Linked DNA regions of Homo sapiens: regions 1, 2 and 3 are each linked to region 4. The links come from fine-mapping of genetic effects on gene expression. A gene starts in region 4. Each other region holds a variant in brackets. All regions are shown on one strand. Distances are between the middles of the regions. Region 1 overlaps LOC105375924 (a long non-coding RNA gene). Region 2 overlaps PAG1 (phosphoprotein membrane anchor with glycosphingolipid microdomains 1). Region 3 has its middle 53 kb from the start of PAG1. Region 4 holds the start of PAG1 (phosphoprotein membrane anchor with glycosphingolipid microdomains 1).

Region 1 (5,153 bases), 42 kb before region 4:
CTGCCCCCTGTCCAGTTGTGACAAGAAAAAATATCTCTAGACATGGTCAAGTGTCCCTAGGGAGGCAAAAATCACACCCAGTTGAGAACCACTGTGCAACACTGTGTAACCTTGGGCAAGTTGCTTCACTTCTCTAAATCTGTTCTTTTTTTTTTCTTTTTTCTTTTTTTTCTTTTTTTTTTTTTTTTTGAGATGGACTCTTGTTCTGTTGCCCAGGCTGGAGTGCAGTGGTGCCATCTCGGCTCACTGCAACCTCTGCCTCCTGGGTTCAAGCTATTCTCCTACCTCAGCCTCCCAAGTAGCTGGGATGACAGGCGTGAACCACCACACCTGGCTAATTTTTGTATTTTTAGTAGAGACAGGGTTTCACCATGTTGGCCAGCTGGTCTCGAACTCCTGACCTCAGGTGATCCGCCCACCTTGGCCTCTCAAAGTGCTGGGATTACAGGTGTGAGCCACGGTGCCCAGCCCTCTAAATCTGTTTCTTGTCTATAAAATGAGTATAATAATAGTACTGACCTCATAGGTTTAGAAGATGATTAAATGAATTGGTGAACATTAAGCACTTATCAGAGTAAATGGACACTTAAGTGCATAGTATGTGTTTAATAATAAGGTAATAATAATAATGGCAGTACTGTAAAAAAATCTGATTTTATAGTGATATATTTTTATGGCTAGAATTCAAGGTTTAATTTCCTCTTCTTTGATTAAAATAATAAAATAAGGTACTCATTAGTAATAAAAATAAGGTACTTATTCCTAATATCTATTTCAGCAAATGAATCAAAGGCTGAATCTCAATGTGAATAAATCAAAGTGAAAAAGTTTGACATCAGTCACTTTTGATCTTTCATTACCAAACACCAATTAATGCTCTTAAGTTAAACATGACCACGTGTCATTTTGTTGTAGCTAAGTGAATTCGGAGTGTGAAGGAGATAAAAAGAACTCTGCTTAAAAAGTAAATAGAAAATTTGAATGCTGTGTATTTCAGAATAATCTTGCAGACTTTACACCTCAGTATTTTATAAAATACAGATTTAAAATGTACATTTAGTAAAACAAATTTTTTAGCATAGTCTGCAATCTCTGACTTAAAGACATGAATATTTTGGGTTTATTAGCATAAATTGAATACCAGCATGCAAACACTGAAATGAATTTAAGGAAATTGTTAATGATTCATTACATAGAGTAATTAGGTTTTTGTATGATTAGAGTAAATGCGTTAGCAAAATCAATTATGCACTGATACAGTGAAAAACCACTCTCAGGAAAGAAGTCAATGGTGTAATAAAAAGGACATTTTTGCAGGGCTCCTCCTGCACTTTCTTGACAATCACAAACAGCTGTTGCCATCTGCCAGGGTGAGCCCTTGGCAAAAAGGCATGACAAACCTCTGCCAAACCCTGGTCTGTTGAAAGTGTCCACCCCACAACTCTCAGAGACCGAGTATCCTTAAGAGATAGTAAATGAATCTCCAGTGAAACTGGCTTATGTCATTTTTAAGGGATTGTAGGCGAAAGCAAACAAGATAACACAGAAGAAGTGCATTCGTGGAGAATTGCCTTTGTGGCTCTGCTTCTATTACTTTAAATCTTTTAGAGGGTATACGCTTTTCCCCTCAATGGAATCATTGTTCAAACTTATTGTATGGTGTTGTAACTACTTCTTAATGTGTATTAAACTGCTAGTACAAGTGCCAAGACATTGTCATCTTTGTATCTCCAAGACCTAGCACAGAGCACGCACTCAGTGAGTAAAAGAATGAATAAAAGTATTGGTCCAGGCCTGGTGCAGTGGCTAACACCTGTTAATCCCAACACTTTGGGAGGCCAAGGCAGGTGGATCACCTGGGGTCAGGAGTTTGAGACCAGCCTGGCCAACATGGTGAAACCCTGTCTCTACTAAAAATACAAAAACTAGCCGGGTGCGGTGGCTCATGCCTGGAATCCCAGCTACTTGTGAGGCTGAAGCAAGGGAATTGCTTGAACTCAGGAAGCAGAGGTTGCAGTGAGCTGAGATTGCGCCACTGCACTCCAGCCTGGGCAACAGAGGGCAACTCTGTCTCAAAAAAAA[A/T]ATATATATATATATGTGTGTGTGTGTGTGTGTGTGTGTGTGTGTGTGTGTGTATGTATGTCCAGCTTACCATGACTGCTGTACCAGGCTCCAAGATCAGTTGTGAATTTCAAATATCAATCTCAGCCTTCACAGGGTTATCTTAAGTACTGTACCTCAGGACCACTGACTCTTCTCATCATGTGTCAGCCTTCCTAGAATAGACACAGTCTGAAGCAGCAGGAAATGAGGCAATGAGAGCCATGTGACATAGGCCACATCTACACCCCTGAAGAAAAGAAGTTAGGCAATCTTCTAGATCATTGACATAGAAAAAGATTTTTGCCAGGAAATGCCAGATAACTCAGGCGAAGTGCTTTTTTCTCTGCTTGAATTAATAGTATAATTGCCTCAGTTCTCCATTTGTCTATTTTTGTTCAGACACAGCTTCAGATAAAATCATTTGCAGCAAAGAGTCCTAGGGGAATAAAAGAAAAGGAGCCCAGAGACAAAGGAGGAACCTTCTAAACTAGTTCAACTGTGTCACAGAACAGCCTGAATGCATCCAGGTGGCAGTATGGAAATTAGGAAGCGAAACTGGATCTATGCAAATGATGAGGAAATGCTTATTTGAATTTCACAAACAAGAGCGTTAGCTATTTTCACAATGTGAAGCATTTGATTTTACCTCAATGTGTCAATATTTCAAAGGCAGGTCCTTGCAGATCAATTGCTTCTATTTCTTTTCTGTGGATGTTGACTGCAAAGAGGCTTTTCTGTAAGAATGCAATCTAGAAAAGTTTAAAAGCAATAGTGGTAGAGATGAAATGGTTTTAAAAACTAAACTTAAATAATAATACTGTCTCCTAGGAAGTGATTTTGAATAATAATTTTAAAAATCAAATTAAGTCCAGTAGAGTCTCACATCAATGTTATCTCTGAAGCCCCGGCTCTGAGATCATGCTAGAGGTGGAATCATATATTAACAAGCATCTTCCGGGGCTGTCATTATCATTCTCTGTTATATTTTATTCAAGACAATTTATCTGCTATTGCTTAGCCATCTTTATAGCTTCAAGTTTCAGATTATGAGTGATCACAACAGAGTTCTAAAATCTGATAGAAAAGTAAACAGACACCATATAAATTAGAATGCAATTAGATGTAAGAAAGCTTTGTAAACTGCAACACACCATGCAAATCTGTTATTATGGTACAGAAGGCTCATTGAAGCCTGTTTTTTTCCCTTTTAACAAAATGATGTGACTAATTATGAAGATAAAAACTCGTTAAATCTTTTAAACTGATTTTCCTTTCTAATTATTGGAAGCTTATATATTGTCTGAGAGTAAATTTCTTTTCTGAAACTAGAAACTAGCCTCTCCCTGGTTTGATTGGATTTCATAGGGCCCACTGTGATACATCACCTCTGGAACTGTTTGACTCAAAGGAAGATAGGATTAGTCTACCTGTATTATAGGAATTCACCATGGAAACCATGGAACAGGAAAAAAAATTAGTAAAAGAAAAGCAAATCAAAATCACCATGACTATTGAATACAGGTAGTTAAAATTACAGTAAGAGTTCCCCCTGCTTAGTTGGGATTCTATTCCTGAGCCTTGAAAAGAACTCACAGACTTTCTTTGAGTAAGACTTGGGGCATACAATGAAATGACTTTTATCTTAAGCTAAATGACCTGCATGATAATTTTATTTCCCTTCAGAATTAATTCTTTTTTTTTTTTTACAGGCCTAACAGTTTAAAGGTAATTTGAAAAATTGATATAAACTTAAACATAAAATGGTAAACGCTCACACATGAAAAAAATCAGCTCCAGAAGTCATATCAGTAAGACTGTTGTGAATGACATTGTACACCAAATTGTGGATCATATACTTTGCTTCAAGTTTCTTTTTCATTCTTTAGGATTTTTTTTTTTCCTTCAACGTTTGCTTCACTGGGAGAGGCAAAGGTGTGCTTTTAGACATCATCAGGTTAAATAACTCTAATCTTAAACTTTTTTTTCTTTTTTTTTTTTTTTTGAGACGGAGTCTCACTCTGTCGCCCAGGCTGGAGTGCAGTGGCATGATCTCCACTCACTGCAAGCTCCGCCACCGGGGTTCACGTCATTCTCCTGCCTCAGCCTCCCGAGTAGCTGGGACTACAGGTGCCTGCCACCATGCCCGGCTAATATTTTTGTATTTTTAGTAGAGATGGGGTTTCACCGTGTTAGCCAGGATGGTCTCGATCTCCTGACCTCGTGATCCACCTGCCTTGGCCTCCCAAAGTGCTGGGATTACAGGCGTAAGCCACCGCGCCCGGCTAATCTTAAACTTTTTGAACAACTGATCTCCAAACTTTTCATTGTGTCTCCCTTTAGTTTAAAAAGAGAGATCTCTGATAGATCTATATACAAAAATTTTAAAACAGAGATATTTTAAAGATGTTTTACTAAAAGTATTCATTCTAAGAAGAGATCATCAATCCCTTGTCTAAGATATTTTTCATAATTACCTTTGATGGACTTAATAACACGTGCTATGCAGCCATTGCTTTGTTATTTGTTTTCTTTTCCTTCACTATGCTCTTGGGCTTTAATCACTTCTTAAATTGCTTCTAGATGCCTGTGTTGCCATCCTGAGTCTCACCTGGGAGATTCGCATACTTCGAACACACAATGATTCAGTTTGCAGCAATTTGGTCTCAATAGAAGTCAGTTTTCCTAAGTAAGAGCTAGCCAAATTCAATTTGAAGGAAACTTAGTGGATTAATCAAATCATCTTGACTATAATTTCATAGAATTAAGTATTTTATAAAATGAGTGGTCTATTATTACATACTTAAATTTCTTTATACAGAAATTCAATATTGCTCTAGTAATGTGTACTTGATAATATCTACATCATTCTTACCGGTTTCATTAAAAAAAAAATTTTTAACAAAAAGATCAAAGAACCCACCGTTGTATTGATACTGGTGCTGCAGTTCTAGAAAAAGAAAATATTCTTAAATATTTCTTAAAGAAAATATTTTAAAGATGGGTATTAAGGAGGACCAGAATCGAAACATTATCTTCTTTGCTATGGTTGT
Region 2 (5,153 bases), 140 kb after region 4:
GGCCTGAGAACTTGCCTTTCTGACAAATTCCCAGATCCTGTTGCTGCTGGTTTACAGCCCACACTTTGAGAATCACCGGTCTACTATGTGTTTTCTGTCCTTTTTTGTAAAGCAGTGGAGCCCCTTTTCAGGCAAAATATCATTCTGATAAAGAAATGAAATAAAACACATGCTGTGGTCAGGTCCCCGGGGCCTTCAGGAGCTTCCCACTCCACCTCTCCTCAAATTCCTCGGCAGACCCAAGAGAACTGGGTTTTCACGGAATTAAGGGAATATGACTGATCTAGTTAACATAGTTGAAGATAGTGTGTGTAATTATTCTCTAGTAATGTGCTCCATAATTAGTACAGATAAGAAAGAACAAATCTTTAAGGAGTACACACACAGAAACCCAGGAGTGCTCAGTATGTAGCTTGTCACTAAAAAGAGGGAGGGGGAAGTCACAGCTGGAAGTTTATTCAACTCTCCCTTTGTCTCCTAGATCTCAGCTATGTACTCATCAGTAAATAAACCTGGACAGTTAGTGAATAAATCGGGGCAGTCGCTTACAGTTCCGGAGTCCACCTACACCTCCATTCAAGGGGACCCACAGAGGTCACCCTCCTCCTGTAATGATCTCTATGCTACTGTTAAAGACTTCGAAAAAACTCCAAACAGCACACTTCCACCAGCAGGGAGGCCCAGCGAGGAGCCAGAGCCTGATTATGAAGCGATACAGACTCTCAACAGAGAGGAAGAAAAGGCCACCCTGGGGACCAATGGCCACCACGGTCTCGTCCCAAAGGAGAACGACTACGAGAGCATAAGTGACTTGCAGCAAGGCAGAGATATTACCAGGCTCTAGCAACCCAGAAGACAACCCTGGGTAGCCTGTGATCAGTGTCTGGAGACGTTTCTTCTGTGGAAGAGAAGAAGTGACACAAACCTATACTTCATATGCTGCTTTAGTCACCTGAAGATGGTTGGAGAGGCCCTGTCGACTGTTCTCCCAGTTGTTCAGTTTCTGAGACAGAGAGGTACGGACTAGGCTGCACCTGAGTGTGCCCCTGCCTGCCAGATGGACAGGTACACCCAAGCACATCTCCCTGCTGCACCCTCACCACCCACAAAAGATCCCAGCTGTCAGTGGTCTCATCTCATTAGTGAGGAAAGCCAAGCTGTATGGAAAAGCTGCACTCACCAAGGACCACAATGCCCCCGGCCTAAAGTACTGCCATTCAGAAAAGCAGGTTTTTCTTCCTCTCTTTCCTTTTCTCTGTCTGCTACTGACTTTAAGGCTTTTTCCCCCTTGAAATGTCCAGATTCCTGTGGTTCATCCCAAGGAAATTTTCACACAAAGCTTGGCCTTTGCCCTCAATATAGGTGTTTTAGGATGGTGACAAACCATGGCTGCTGCTTTCTGCCCAGCTCGCCAGTCCTCCCCAAAGAGTTGCGCATCAGCACCTGGGGATCTGGACCCTGCGGGTGAAGGGATGGGGAGGGACGTCCCTGGAGTCTCTTCTGTCTTTGTTCCTTCTTATTTTGGCATTCGATATCAGCAGCCTCTCCCCAAAGTACTTGAAGTCAGTTTTAGATGCTTTATTTTATTTTTCTAGTCAAAAACGTGTTTCCCCCAGTGTTTGAAAACTCGTCCGAATCTTTTCAGTATTTTCCATGAGTATTGTGGTACTTCTAGACTTGTTTAAGCCCAGAACTCATTCCTTCAAAACAGAGAGCCTTAATCTTTATGTTGGGACACAGACCACATATTTGGACGGCAGCCATGCATCCATCGCTGAAGGGCTGTGGACATGAATGTGTATTTCCCATGGTCTCCGCTGCCCACACCAACAGTGTGGCATCTCATAAGTTAACTGCTACCCTAAGGTAATCTAAGATTAAAATGTAAACATTTATTTTTGTTATGTAAGTTTATAAGATGTTTTATGTTCAATGCCTAATTTCTCAAAAGTGCCAGAAAAAAATGTATATTAGCTATTTTGATTTTATGTACAATGATTTATACTCTCCTTTTGAAAAGATACCATAAAGCACATAAGCTAGATCACTACAAGGAGCTGTTATCTTTTTTCTAATCAAGTGTTTAAAACACTGATGGTTTTTAAAGACTCACCTTTTTAAATGGTACTTGGAGCTCCTGATTCAAATTACCTAGACCCCCTAGAGAAATAAATGGAATATACATAAATAATCATTTTCAGTGGTTTATGGTGGGCAATATTGCAATATTTGAAATGGTAAAAATGGAAAGAAGAACAAAATATGATGAGAGGTGGCTGTGAATTATAAACCTCATAAAAGTGTCATAATTCCATTAAGGTTTAATTATATTTTTTCAGAAAACAGTGATGAATTCTGTAGTCCAGTGCTTGCCAATGCAAATTGCCTATTGGAATCTTCTTCCTATATTTTACAAACATCAGTGGCTGAAATAGCTCAGAGTAAGAGCTCAGCCTGGTTTGAATTTAATCATCTCTTTAGATCTTATAAGGCCAGCATTAGGAAACTTGTTCACTTTTCATTTTCAAAGGAGCCTAGTTGAAGTGCTATTATGAGTGTGGGCTATGGAAAGACAGCTTTTCCTACACTGATAAAGAAAAAAAATGAGGAAATTATTTCATCCCCTTGTGACATCTGTGACTTTTTGGATTTAATAATCTTGCTGTTTTTCCTCTTTATGACAAAGAATATAATTGGGAGGATGAAGTGTCTTAAAAATTGTAGAGACCAGCTCACTGGAATGTTTTTCCATCCCTGTATTCATGGCTTGACTTTGTGACTGCTCTACACTGCATGTCTGACATTGCAGAGTGAGCTATGTTGAGGTAAACTGGTTGGTTGTCATTATTTTGCAATCAGCCTGGTCTCTCCCATGAAGATGTCGTGTGCATAAGCACAATCATCACTGATTAGAAGATCACAGCAGAATACCCTTGGATTAGAGAGAAGTTCGTACCTTGCATTTCTCTGAATTCTAGTCTCTCATAAGCACTGCTTTGCTGGATGATTTTCACTGCTTTGTGTTAATGACTTTGAGCGATCTCTCACATGATGGGGTTCTTTAGTACATGGTAACAGCCATGTCATCTTACACACCTAGCATTGTG[A/C]ATGCTGTAGTGACATCCTTTATAGGCACCTTACAGCTCAAAACTTTTGTTTCATTTCATGCCTTACTTATCAAAAAGGCAGGAAAGTAGGTATGATCTCTAAAGTAAAAAAAAAAAAAAAAAAAAAACTTTTTATAGAAAGCTCATAAATAATCATGTCATTTTGCAATTTTGTTACCAAAATTTCCCCCAAGAGTTTTCAAATATTAGTTCTGCAATGTGGCTATGAAATATGCACTGAAATATACCTTTTAATTTGAGAACCAGTGGTTAGAATAAGCTGTGATATAAAGTATTTTCAGTGTACTTTTAAAGGAACTATAAGGCCCTCCAGCATAAACGCTAAAAGAATAGATGGTAGCACAGGCCATGAGGGCTGGGGGAGAGAAGCAGAGTGAACCTTAGAAAGATGGCTCAGCTATTTGGAGCACTGGATATTTTACTGAAGTTATTTACTGAGGCACCATCACTGTTTTGACTGTACAGTATAGTTTTTCATAAATTTCATCACATTTACTTTGTTCAGAATCTGGGCTTGAATCTTTGAGTTGGACAAAAGCCTATGGTTTCTTTTAAAAAGTTTCATCTTGAGCTAATGCTACAGTTTAAATAAAATGTATGAAAGGTAGTTATCAAAAACAATTTGTATATTTAAAATTCTATTTTGACATCCATTTTTTACAGCGAATTATAGCAGGTTATGTGAAATTTAAAAATAAATTTTAGGAAATTTTTTTATCTTGTAAGTAAGAATTATAAATCTATCTCAGTTAAAAGTAGGATCTTTGTTTTTATTCAGATATTTTGAAAGTTTAGAAGCATTTTGTATGCTACTTTGGTATTTCTTAAGTATAGTCAGCAGGAAAGGGTAACCTGTTTTATGCAAAATTTTTTTAATTTGTCAAATGTTTTTAGTGTGTCTACTTTCTGAAATAGTCTCAATATCCTGTCTGTATCCTAGGCAGATAACTACACAAGAACAAAACGCTATATAGAAAAGAAAATATTTGAGGAAATCTTAAATTCCATAAGAAAGTAATTCTTGCAAGAATGTTGGCTACATATTTTTTTTTCTGTCCTGAATAAATTACATCATTAGGTCTGTTGAAGCTTTTGAAGCTACCACTATTCTTTCTGGGATAAAGGCTAATTACTGATTTATCTGCCCTCAAAATCCCAGAGTTAATTCTAATTGAGTACTAAATTAACAGTAAGTAGTTAACACAGAGAACTAAAATTTAACCGCATTATATCACTGTATATATTTCTCATGATTTTTGCTAATTAGAGCATTTACTTAACCAGTAATAAACTACACACACACACACACACACACACACGTATACGTGTGTGTGTGTATATACTTGGCTCTGACACAACTCTGGTGCTTAATTAGGATATGTTCTATTATGTATTTTGAATGTTTATCCTGCTAGTGTGATGAACTTTTGTTGGAAAAGCAGAATTAGAAGGAACAGTTTTTCAATCAGTTTCATTTGGTAATTACAGGAAAACCTTGAGTTGCTCTAATTTAATTTTTCCAATTAATACATTTAGACTTTAAATTGCATCCGTAATTCTCTTGGCTGAAAAACAGTGGTATTTTAAGACAGTTTTGTTATACATGTGACTTACTTTTGACTCAGCCTGAGAGGAGGAAATGTAAAGAGATAAGAGATTTGGCCCAAAGCAGCAAGAGACTAGTAACCTTGAGCCAGGACGAAGCCAAGACAACGTGACTCCCAAGTAGCAGGAGCAGAGGTCGGTCACCTGTGGCATTCTGTTTCATTCCCTTTTAAAATTATGAGACTTTATAGGCAGTGTAAAACATCAGCAGGCAGCGATGTGATAGGATGTGCGAAAAAGCTGGTCTGATACCATGGCTATAATTACAGAGCTTTAGTTCAATTAGGATTTTGTAAATGAGCAAATGACCTTTTTTTCCAGTGCCCCTTGTAATAGTTAATATGAGTCCATGCAATCTTGTGATGCCATTCTCCTGAAGGTGTTGATTTCTGGTACCCAGCCAGCTTAGCTTTGGCTGCT
Region 3 (5,153 bases), 53 kb before region 4:
CTCTCCATCACTTTCAGGTACACCAATCAAATGTAGGTTTGGTCTTTTCACATTGTCCCATATTTCTGGAGGCTTTGTTCGTTCCGTTTCTTTCTTTTTTCTCTAATCTTGTCTTCATGCTTTATTTCATTAAGTTGATCTTCAGTCTCTGATATCCTTTCTTCTGTTTGATCAATTCAGCTACTGATACTTGTGTATGCTTCATGAAGTTCTCATGCTGTGTTTTTCAGCTCCATCAGGTCATTTACATTCTTCTCTAAACTGGCTATTCTACTTAGCAGTTCCTGTAACCTTTGATAAAGTTTCTTAGCTTCCTTGCATTGGATTAGAACACGCTCCTTTAGCTCAGAGGAGTTTGTAATTACCCATCTTCTGAAGCCTACTTCTGTCAATTCATCAAACTCATTCTCCATCCAGTTTTGTTCCCTTGCTGGCAAGGAGTTGTGATCCTTTGGAGGAGAAGAAGCATTCTGGTTTATGGAATTTTCAGCCTTTTTGCGTTGGTTTTTCCTCATCTTCGTGGATTTATCTACCTTTGATCTTTGATGTTGATGACCTTTGGATAGGGTTTTTTCATGGGCATCCTTTTTGTTGATGTTGATGTTATTGCTTTCTGTTTGTTAGTTTTCCATCTAACAGTCAGGACCCTCTTCTGCAAGTCTGCTGGAGTTTGCTGGGGGTCCACTCCAAACCCTGTTTGCCTGGGTATCACCAGCAGAAGCTGTAGAACAGCAAAGATTGCTGCCTGTTCCTTCCTCTGGAAGCTTTGTCCCAGAGGGACACCTGCCAGATGCTAGCCGGAGCTCTCCTGTATGAGGTGTCTGTCGACCCCTGCTGGGAGGTATCTCCCAGTCAAGAGGCACGGGGTTCAGGGACCCAGTTGAGGAGGCAGTCTGTACCTTAGCAGAGCTCAAGCACTGTGCTGGGAGATCGGCTGCTCTCTTCAGAGCCTGCAGGTAGGAACGTTTAAGTCTGCTGAAGCTGTGCCCACAGCCACTCCTTCCCCCAGGTGCCCTCTCCCAGGGAAATGGGAGTTTTTATCTATAAGCCCCTGACTGGGGCTGCTGCCTTTCTTTCAGGGATGCCCTTCCCAGAAAGGAGGAATCTAGAGATGTGGTCTGGCTACAGCAGCTTTGCTGCACTGCGATGGGATTCGTCCCATTTGAACTTCCCTCTGGCATTTTTTTTAACACCGTGAGGGGAAAACCGCCTATTCAAGTCCCAGTAATGCCGGATGCCCCTACCCCCCAGCAAGCTGGAGCATCCCAGGTGGATTTCAGACTGCTGTGCTGGCAGCGAGAATTTCACGTCAGTGGATCTTAGCTTGCTGGGCTCCGTGGGTGTAGGATCTGCTGAGCAAGACCACTTGGCTCCCTGGCTTCAGCCCCCCTTTCCAGGGGAGTGAATGGTTCTGTCCATTCTGGCTCTGCTTGGCTTTCCAGCCTCCTGCAGCTAGCTCAGTGTCTGCCCTAACAACCACCCAGTTTTGTGCTTGAAACTCAGGACCCTGGTGGTGTAGGCAGCCAGGGGAATCTCCTGGTCTGCGGGTTGCGAAGACTGTGGGAAAAGCATAGTATTTGAGCCGGATTGCACCGTCCCTCAAGGCACATTCCCTCACTGCTTCCCTTGGCTGGGAAGGGAGTTCCCCAACCTCTTGTGCTTCCTGGGTGAGGTGACCACCCCCACCCCCCACCGCCTGACCCGCTTTGGCTTGCCCTCCATGGGCTGCACCCACTGTATTACCAGTCCCAATGAGATGAGCCAGGTACCCCAGTTGTAAATGCAGAAATCACTCACCTTCTGTGTTGTTCTCACTGGGAGCTGCAGACCAGAGCTGTTCCTATTTGGCCAGCTTGCCAGATCTCACACATTATTTTTATTATTGAAGATTTAAAATGTGTTTAAATGTGTGAAAGAACTAGTTCTCTTTATGATCACTTTTCCAGATTTTTCTTGACTATTTTTGTTTTTTATTTTTTCATTTGAACTTTAGTATTAGCTTGTCTCTGATTACAAAATAAAAATGCTGTTGCTATTTTTATTGAATTAAATTTTTGTGATGTTGACTTTTCCTATCTAAGAAATTATATGCTTTCCCATTTATTCATTTTATTTTGTGTTTTTTGGTAGCATCTTAAAATGTTCTTTATATAAATCATGCCCATCTCTCATACTTATTCCTAAGCGTTTTATCTTTTTTGTTGAATTGTAAATAGAGTCTTTTCTTCTCTTTTATCATATATATATAATTCACTTCTGTAGATTGCATACCCACAAACTTACTAAGTTCTCTGATTTTGGTTGGTTTCTTTGATTTTTTGTCATGAAATTGGACCTACATCTATATTGAATCTTAGCTTTGCTAGATTTAATATGCCTTGAAGTCAAGAGCTACACCAATCCTTTGCATTTGGTAAATGATGCTATTTGATCCCAGGTCACATCTTCTATAAAAGCATTATTTCATCCTGGTTTTGGCATATGAAGCAATGTTATGGCTGATGTTGATTTGTTTGCTTTTCTTCAATATTTAAAACAATATCCAGTTGTTAGTTTTTTGTTATCAATCCATGAGTATCTTGGAAGAGTACTATAATTTTACACTTTATCAAAAGAGGAAATATGTGGCTTTTATTGCTCAAACAAATAAGTTTCAGCAGGGCACGGCTGCTCACACCTGTAATCCCAGCACTTTGGGAGGCTGAAGCAGGTGGATCACCTGAGGTCGGGAGTTCGAGACCAGCCTGACCAACATGGAGAAACCCCATCTCAACTAAAAATACAAAATTAGCCGGGCATAGTGGTGCATGCCTGTAATACTAGCTACTCAGGAGACTGAGACAGGAGAATCACTTGAACCTAGGAGGTCAAGGTTGCGGTGAGCCAAGATCACACCATTGCACTCCAGCCTGGGCAACAAGAATGAAACTCTGTCAAAAAAAAAA[G/A]AAAGAAAGAAAGAAAGAAAATTTCAATTATTCTAGGATATGTCTTTTCTCTTACCATGAATCATCCAACTGATTACCCACATGGGCCTCACACTAGACCAAGTACTTTTTGAGCAGCATAGTATCAGAAGTACCAGCTATTGTGAGCCAAGAATGTGAATACTGAAGAAAAGCTGGAAAGATCAAGCACTATCAATGATCGAAGCTAAGGCAGGTAGGCAAATTGATGTCAGCATGCATCTATAAACCACAATAGTCAGAAGCCAAGCAAGTAGACAATAATTGGTGAGTGAAGTTGGGGGTGGGGGGTGATATGTAATAGAGCATGAGAAAAATCAATGGCAAAAAGACTAGATAGAAATATTATATGTAACTCATGAAAGACCAAAGACAAATTGTCCAACAATAAAGGAAAAAGCTACAGTAAATATGCTAGACTATATGCAGCTATTAAAATTATAACTCTGATCATTAGGTAGAAACATTGAAAAGTATTTACAAAATGATTCTAAGTGAATAAAAAAGTCATAATAACTACATATTCAGTATTTATTATTTCTAATTTAAAAACCAACTATAAAGGCAAAATAATGGAGACAAAAATATCAGTTGTTTCCAGAGGTCAGAAGGGAGTGAAGCACAGAGAATCTTAAGAGCAGAGAAACTACTCTGTATGACGTAGCCATGCATCACTTAACAACAGGGAAACATTCTGAGCAATGCGCCATTAGGCAATTTCATTGCTGTGCGAACATCACAGAATATACTTCTACCAATCTGGATGCTGTAGCCTACACATACAGCCTATTGCTCCTAGTCTACAAACCTAGGCAGCATGTTACTACATTGAATATTATAGGCAATTATATCACAATGGTAAGTATATGTGTATCTGAACATATCTAAACATTGAAAAGATACGGTAAAGTTACAGTATTATAATCTTATGAGACCATCCTTGTATATGCAGTCTGTGATTGACTGAGATGTTGTTATGCAACAAATGACTGTACCATAATGTTGGATATAGGTCATTATACATTTATCCAAACCCATAAAATGTACAACACCAAGGGTGAACCCTAATGTAAACTATGGACTTCGGGTGATAATGATGTGTCAATGTAGGTTCATTAACTGTAATGGATGTAGCATTCTAGAGGGGAATGTTGATCATGGGGGAGGCTATACATGTCTCAGGGCAGGGGACATATGGGAAATCTCTATATCTTCCACTCAATTTTTCTGTGATCTGAAATCTGCTCTAAAAAATAAAGATTTTATTTTTAAAAATTAACTACATGTGGACAAAATTTGTGAAATAACACGAAGAAATAACTATTAGAGAGTTGGGATTATGTTGTGATTTAGAAAATAGACTTTTTGTTGATTGATTTAGCCAAAAAAAATTTAATTCTATTGTAAAGATATGAGTTTAAGAAAATGGGCAAAGTGATGACAAAAAGAAAACCTGATAACTAAGGCTGGCATTTGCTTTAATCAAGAAATTATATATGCCTCCCATTGTTATCATTAATAAGAGCTAATACTTGTATATTATTTCCTGCATGCTGAGTCCTTAAAACAAAAATTAGTCCTCACCTATGATTAGAATCCACTTTGCGTATATCTTTTCTTTCATTCCTGTCAGAAATGGATAAAATGAGAGTATGCCACTGCATATGGAGAAAACAAGAGACATAGCAAAATAAAGGTATTTTTCTGCTTTCACTGTATAAGGATACAAGAGAAATATACAAGATGACTTCTGCCCTCAAGGCCTTTAGAACTTAGCTGGGGGAAACTGTACCTGAAATAATTGGCAGCGAAAGATACTGTTTTCTGTTGCATCAAAGTGCAATAAAATATTTTAAAAAGATAACAAATACATGAAAACAACTCCACCAGTGTTCCTCAATAGGAGTGCTGTTAGAATTAGTGACAGAACATTTCTTTCTTTGTGCAGAACTCTCTCATGCATTGTAAGATTGCTTACATCCCTGGCCCCTGTCCTTTAAATGCCAGGTGTTCCCAGCCATTGTGTCAAACAAAAATAAATTTAATTTCAAATGCCTCTCACATTTATTTACAAATTAAGACTCTTTAGACCAAACATTTTCAAACTCTAGTGTTCCAAAGAATCTTAAGTGCTTTGGTGCATCCTGTTCAACTTATCAATATTGAAAACCATAGTAAAAATAATACTGA
Region 4 (5,153 bases):
CGAAGAATGGCTGTAATGGAAGAGTTAGATAAGAAGTAAAGATAAAGGCAGGTAGACCACAGTTGGCAGTGTAGCATTCCCAGTCAAACCTCTGGATTAGAAGACTGTATATAACTATCACATACTTGCTTCCAAAACATTACTCAGACCGAGAGTATAGCCCATAGCATCTACCACAAGCACAAGAATTGATCCTGACACTTTTGGTTCTCTATCTAGGAGTGGCTTTGAAATACATTTGAGTTCCAATTTACTGATGGCAAATCCTGATATGAAAAATTTGGAAATGAAAAACAATCCTCAGCATGTTACTTGGTGAAAAGAGAGCAGAGGAAAAGGACAGAGGCTAGAGATTGGCTCCTGCCTGCATTCGTGAATTTGTCTAAATCACTTAGCTTCTGAGCCTGGGTAAAATGAGGATGGTAATTACACTTGTCACCAGATAACGTGAATATTGCCCTTCAAACTCCTCAATGAAGCCTGCACTGTGGAACTGCAATGTCCTAGGACCGGGTTGCTCTTAGAACATTTTGTTCTAAGTGTATCCTAACAAGTGTAGCAAAACTGGAAGACACAAAATGTATTTCCTCCCCACAAGAATGAAAGCCTTCCTAACTCCAAATTTAGGCACAGCCTGTAAAAGATGTGACTAGTAAACACAGAAACCATTTGCTTTATAAGGTCTAAATTGTCCTCTTCTCCAGAGTTGTAGAAGCCAAGTCCAACACGGAGATCCCTACTTTTATTCAAGTTCCACCATTAGTCAACTCATGTCCAGGATGTCTTCTTTAATATATAAAATGGGGATACTTTTTTATATTATTATTCAACTTAAGAGACCACTGTGAAATTTCAGTGAGGTAACGTATGTGAAATGTTATACTCCATAAGTTCTTAAACACCTGAGTTTCATACCATGCTCTGAAGCAAGAGGCCAAGTCTGGTTCCTGGGTCCGCTTCCCCAATGGGCTTTTCCAAGCTGTAGGCTGAGTCTAAACTGTTTCCTCCCACATACCCTTCCCTCTGCGACACACTAACAACATCCCTTACTCCATCACTGTCTTCCTTACCCTCTCCTGATGAGCCTTCTTCCCCAGCCACCTTTAAGCTCCCATTAATGATATGTGTAACGAGTGTTCAATAGAGTGTGTGTGTGTATATTTAATGCCATTTATATGTTTTTTCTTGCTAAGTAATGCATCATAATTTTAGAAAATTGGGACTAGTCAGATAAAGCACCCGTTGGTTTAGAATCCCTGACTCAAAGTCAGATGTCCTGAGTTCTAGACTTGGTTTGTCTCCTTGTAAGTGCAAAAGTTTATTCCCAATTCCAGGTTGCTAGTGTAAACTTGAAGTTTGGCCCAAACAAAACCCCTATCAGATTTATTTAGAGTGTTGATGCCAAATGGAATTCTAGAAGCCCACCTTTGCCAGGGGCTGAGCCAGAACCACTATCACTGGGGGTACGGCCTGGGCATTTGTTCTGCGTTTTTTATAAGCCCCTCGGGTGACTGTCAGACAGGCCAACTGTTTCAGAAGCTCTGCTCCAGGCTCTAGATCACACGTTAAGTAGCAAGGATGGGGGTCTGGACCTCCAGTATTGGCATCCTCCGAGAGCTTGTTAGAAAGGATGTCTCCCTCATTATCCCAGGCCTACTGAATCTGAATCTTGCATCTCATCACAATCCGCAGGAGATTCTGTCACACACTGAGGGTTTGAGAAGCACTGCTGTACCTTGGTATCTTTAGATACCTACTGATACCTGGGTGGGCCCCACCCAGACATTGTCCTGTACTTGTTCTGGGATGCGTCCGGGGCAAAGGGTTCTTACAAGCTCCCCAAGTTATTTTAATGCACAGCCACAATAGAAGATCACTGTCCCCCAAATGGCAACCCTTTACGGTTAAGCTGTAACCTGAATTAAATTGGCTTTTGTGGGCTCCCCAGGGACCTTAAGGACCGCTTAAACGGTGCTGTTTAAAGGACAATGGGCTCCTGGGACAAGTTCAACCACAGAGCTTTGGGTTCATAAAATCAGGGCAGGGAAGACTTCCTGCATCCTCCCGCGAGCAAGCCAGGCCCCGCGCCGGTCCTCACCCGTGTGCACCCCCAGCCCGGCCCCGCCCGGCTCGCCCCCTCCCGCCCCGCGGCCCGCCCCTCCTCCCCCGTGACGTGCCGCTGCGGCCAGGATCATGCGCACTCGCGCCCCGCTCCCCGCGCGGCTGCTCCGCCTCGGCGCCTGTCATTCTCCGCGGCGCGGCGGCGAGTGCTGGCTGCGGTACCCTCCCGCTCGCTTGTCCGTCTGCGCGCCCGCGATGTGACCAGCCGACTGGGGGCGGGCTGGCGGCTCTGCCTGCGGCAGCGCATCGGTTTTTCTCCTGGCAGGTCCCTAATTGAGCCGTGATTCCCTTGGAGCCAGAGACACCCACCAGGGGCTCGGAGCGCCGCGCTCCGGGGCTGGAGGCAGCTGCAGCGCTCGGGTCCGCGCGGCCGGGTGCAGTAGCCTCAGTCCCAGCCGCCGCCTCGCTGAGTCGTGTGCCCTGGCGAATGCCCGGCGCCCGGCACAGCTGAGCCAAGGCGACTGGTGCAGAGCGGCGGCGCCTGGTCCTGCACTTGCCGCTGCTGCCGGGCTGTGCCGGGGCGGCGGCGCTGCGCGCCGGAGTTTGCAGAGGCTGCCTCCGAGCGCCGTCCGCCAGGAAGACTCCCTGCCTCCTGAGTCCCAGTAAGTTGACTGTAGTTTCTGAAGTTGGAGGGAGCCGTGGGAAGGAGAGGTTCGTTTTTATCTTCTTGTGGGAAGCCGAGGGTGGCACCTCTTGTTAACAGAGTTCCAGCTCGAGGAGGGAGTGCGGGGTGCCAAGAAGGGGACAAGGCAGCTGGAAGGTCTGGAGTCCAGGGCTGGCTGACCTCAGCATCTCACGAATGTGCCAGTTGGAAATATGCTGGGAGAGGACAGGTACTCCTAGGGCATTTCGACTGCTGCGTGCTAATTATTCATTCCAAGCTCCTTGACTCTGTGTTTACGTTGGGGTGAAGGGGCTGGGCAGGGTCTTGTCACCTCCATCCTAATTCCTCTGGGGAGTGTGGCCAGCACTGCGATGGATCTTTGGGCGAGCCATTTCTTTCAGGCCTGCAGGCTTCCCGCGCATCCCGCTTTACTCTTCCCCTAGGCAGAAGTTGCCAACCTTTTCATAATTGGAGCCTAGTCCTTTAGGGAAAAAACAACTTATATGTCGACCCGGTGTTTTATGCCCTAAGGCAAATAAAACGAGCTCTGGGCGTGTGAATTCATACACTTTAAGAATGTAGGCAAGTCTCAAGAAATAGGATTCAGATAATGACACTTGGATTTCACCCTGATTGTCCTGCACCTCTTATGTAAGCCTCCCGGCTGGATAACTTTATCTCTGCAGTGGCTGCAGCTGTGGCCCTCCATTCCATTTGTTTAAAGTCCAATTGAACAGTATTTACTGAAAATGCTGACATGATATAGCGGCCTGAAGTCTGAAACAGAGTGCACTCTTCAAATTGGAGTGTCTTCTCCTAATAGGGAGCATGGGAGGAACAACCCACTATATTTTTCAAGGCAGCTCCAGGAATTAGACCCATAAATCATGTTTTAAAATAGCATGCATTGTGCAGAGAGCATGCAGAGGACCGCTTTTTGAACACATCCCCTTTGTTTTAGAAAAAGTGGAAATTGTTCATGCCAGACAATTGTTGAGTCTAAAAGTTAAGTGTACTGATGGGCCTAATTATCTTAATAAACAAAGAGCATGATTTATAGGTAGCTGCAGTGCCCTACTTTGAAGGATAGAAATCTTTAACCTTTCTTTCTCAGCTGTTCCCGAGAGATTCCTTTTAAGCAGAGCTATGGATTATCATCATTGATGTTTAATACCTGAGTTGGTTAAACTTGTAAAAGGAATAGTACTTTGAAGTACCATGCAGTACTGCTGTGTGACTGTTACACAGCGAATATTATAAATAAGAGGAATATTTGGAGTATTGGGTATAGATGTCATTAGTTTAACAAAATAGGTCATATTAAGACTTTCCTGCTAAATATATATACACATACATAAATGTTTAATTTGGACTTGAAATTATTGTTTAAACCAAAGCTCAGGGGTATGTTTTAATGTAAGATTTATTTACATAATCTTTGAAGAGAGAAGTGCATTTATTTATGGTATTTCAGCATGCAGAACAAGATGAACTAGTTATAGGCACCTTATTTAAAGTGTAAAGGGTTTTTTTTTAGGAATACTAAGAAAATACACAAAATGTTATTTCAGAAGTTGAAAAGTTAGTCACATCAACACATTGCGGTTTGTGAGAGCATCCAGTGCTTATCTCTAGAAGAGATTACATCCAAGCATGGAATCTCAAACAGATTGACCCATTAAGCCCTATTGCAGCCTGGTTAGGAGGACAGGCTATGGAGCCAGGCTGCCAGCTCTGGTACCATCTGTTTGAATCTAGGCAAGTAACCCAAAGTCTGTGCCTCAGTGTCTTCATCTGTACAATGGGGATGACAGTAGTAGTACCTACCCCACTGAACAGTAGTGAGAATTAAATGAGTTCATAGACATAGAGCTGTTGGGCCAGTATCTGGCATATTAAGCTTGTTCTGGGAAAAATTTTCATTGTTATGAAAGGAAATGCATCTTTGGACTCTATGGACATTGAATTGCTGCTATGGACATTGAATTGCTGCTGATGAATATTAACAGAAGCAGTTCATGTGTATAATAGGAGAGAAGGTATAAACATTTATTGTGCACTGTCTAGCGATACAGACACCAACTGGTATTTAACACTGTCTTGCTCAATTCCCCACCACAGTCCTTTGAGGTAAGTGGCTTCATCTCTACTTTAGAGATGAGAAAATGGGAGCTCAGTGAGATCAAATAGTAGAAATTGGAGCTGGCATTTAACCCACGTCTGTCTGTGTTGAAACTGTGTTCTTTTTGACCCTGCTGCCTCAACTTGCAAATGAAGTAGTTGCATTATTATCCTCAATTTATACATGAAGAAATCTAAGCTTAAGGATTAAAGTATGCAAAGTGCTTAACAGCACCCACAACAGAAATGATCATAATTATTGTTAAATAACTTGCCCATGCTTCCATACCTCCTAATGTGTGGTAGA

The links. PIP is the estimated chance that this variant, and not a neighbour inherited with it, causes the effect.
Region 1: its variant is the best candidate, but not a certain one, in a credible set for the expression of PAG1 in neutrophils (CEDAR, PIP 0.69).
Region 2: its variant is the best candidate, but not a certain one, in a credible set for the expression of PAG1 in whole blood (INTERVAL, PIP 0.62).
Region 3: its variant is the best candidate, but not a certain one, in a credible set for the expression of PAG1 in whole blood (INTERVAL, PIP 0.79).

What each region holds. Positions count from the first base shown.
Region 1 is chr8:81,151,406-81,156,558 of GRCh38, reverse strand. All of the region lies in intron 1 of LOC105375924 (a long non-coding RNA gene), which reads right to left. Among named protein-coding and RNA genes, the nearest start is that of PAG1, 42 kb to the right of the region's middle. RefSeq lists an enhancer at 2,350-2,399. The variant A/T (reference allele first, on the strand shown) is at 2,083.
Region 2 is chr8:80,972,235-80,977,387 of GRCh38, reverse strand. It overlaps PAG1 (phosphoprotein membrane anchor with glycosphingolipid microdomains 1), which reads left to right. Exons shown (of 9, transcript NM_018440.4): 9 at 482-5,153. The coding sequence ends at 844. Among named protein-coding and RNA genes, the nearest start is that of ZNF704, 100 kb to the right of the region's middle. The variant A/C (reference allele first, on the strand shown) is at 3,108.
Region 3 is chr8:81,162,061-81,167,213 of GRCh38, reverse strand. It overlaps a transcript of LOC105375924 not described here. Among named protein-coding and RNA genes, the nearest start is that of PAG1, 53 kb to the right of the region's middle. The variant G/A (reference allele first, on the strand shown) is at 2,946.
Region 4 is chr8:81,109,161-81,114,313 of GRCh38, reverse strand. PAG1 (phosphoprotein membrane anchor with glycosphingolipid microdomains 1) reads left to right here and starts at 2,246. Exons shown (of 9, transcript NM_018440.4): 1 at 2,246-2,723. RefSeq lists a silencer at 2,111-2,240 and an enhancer at 2,731-2,800.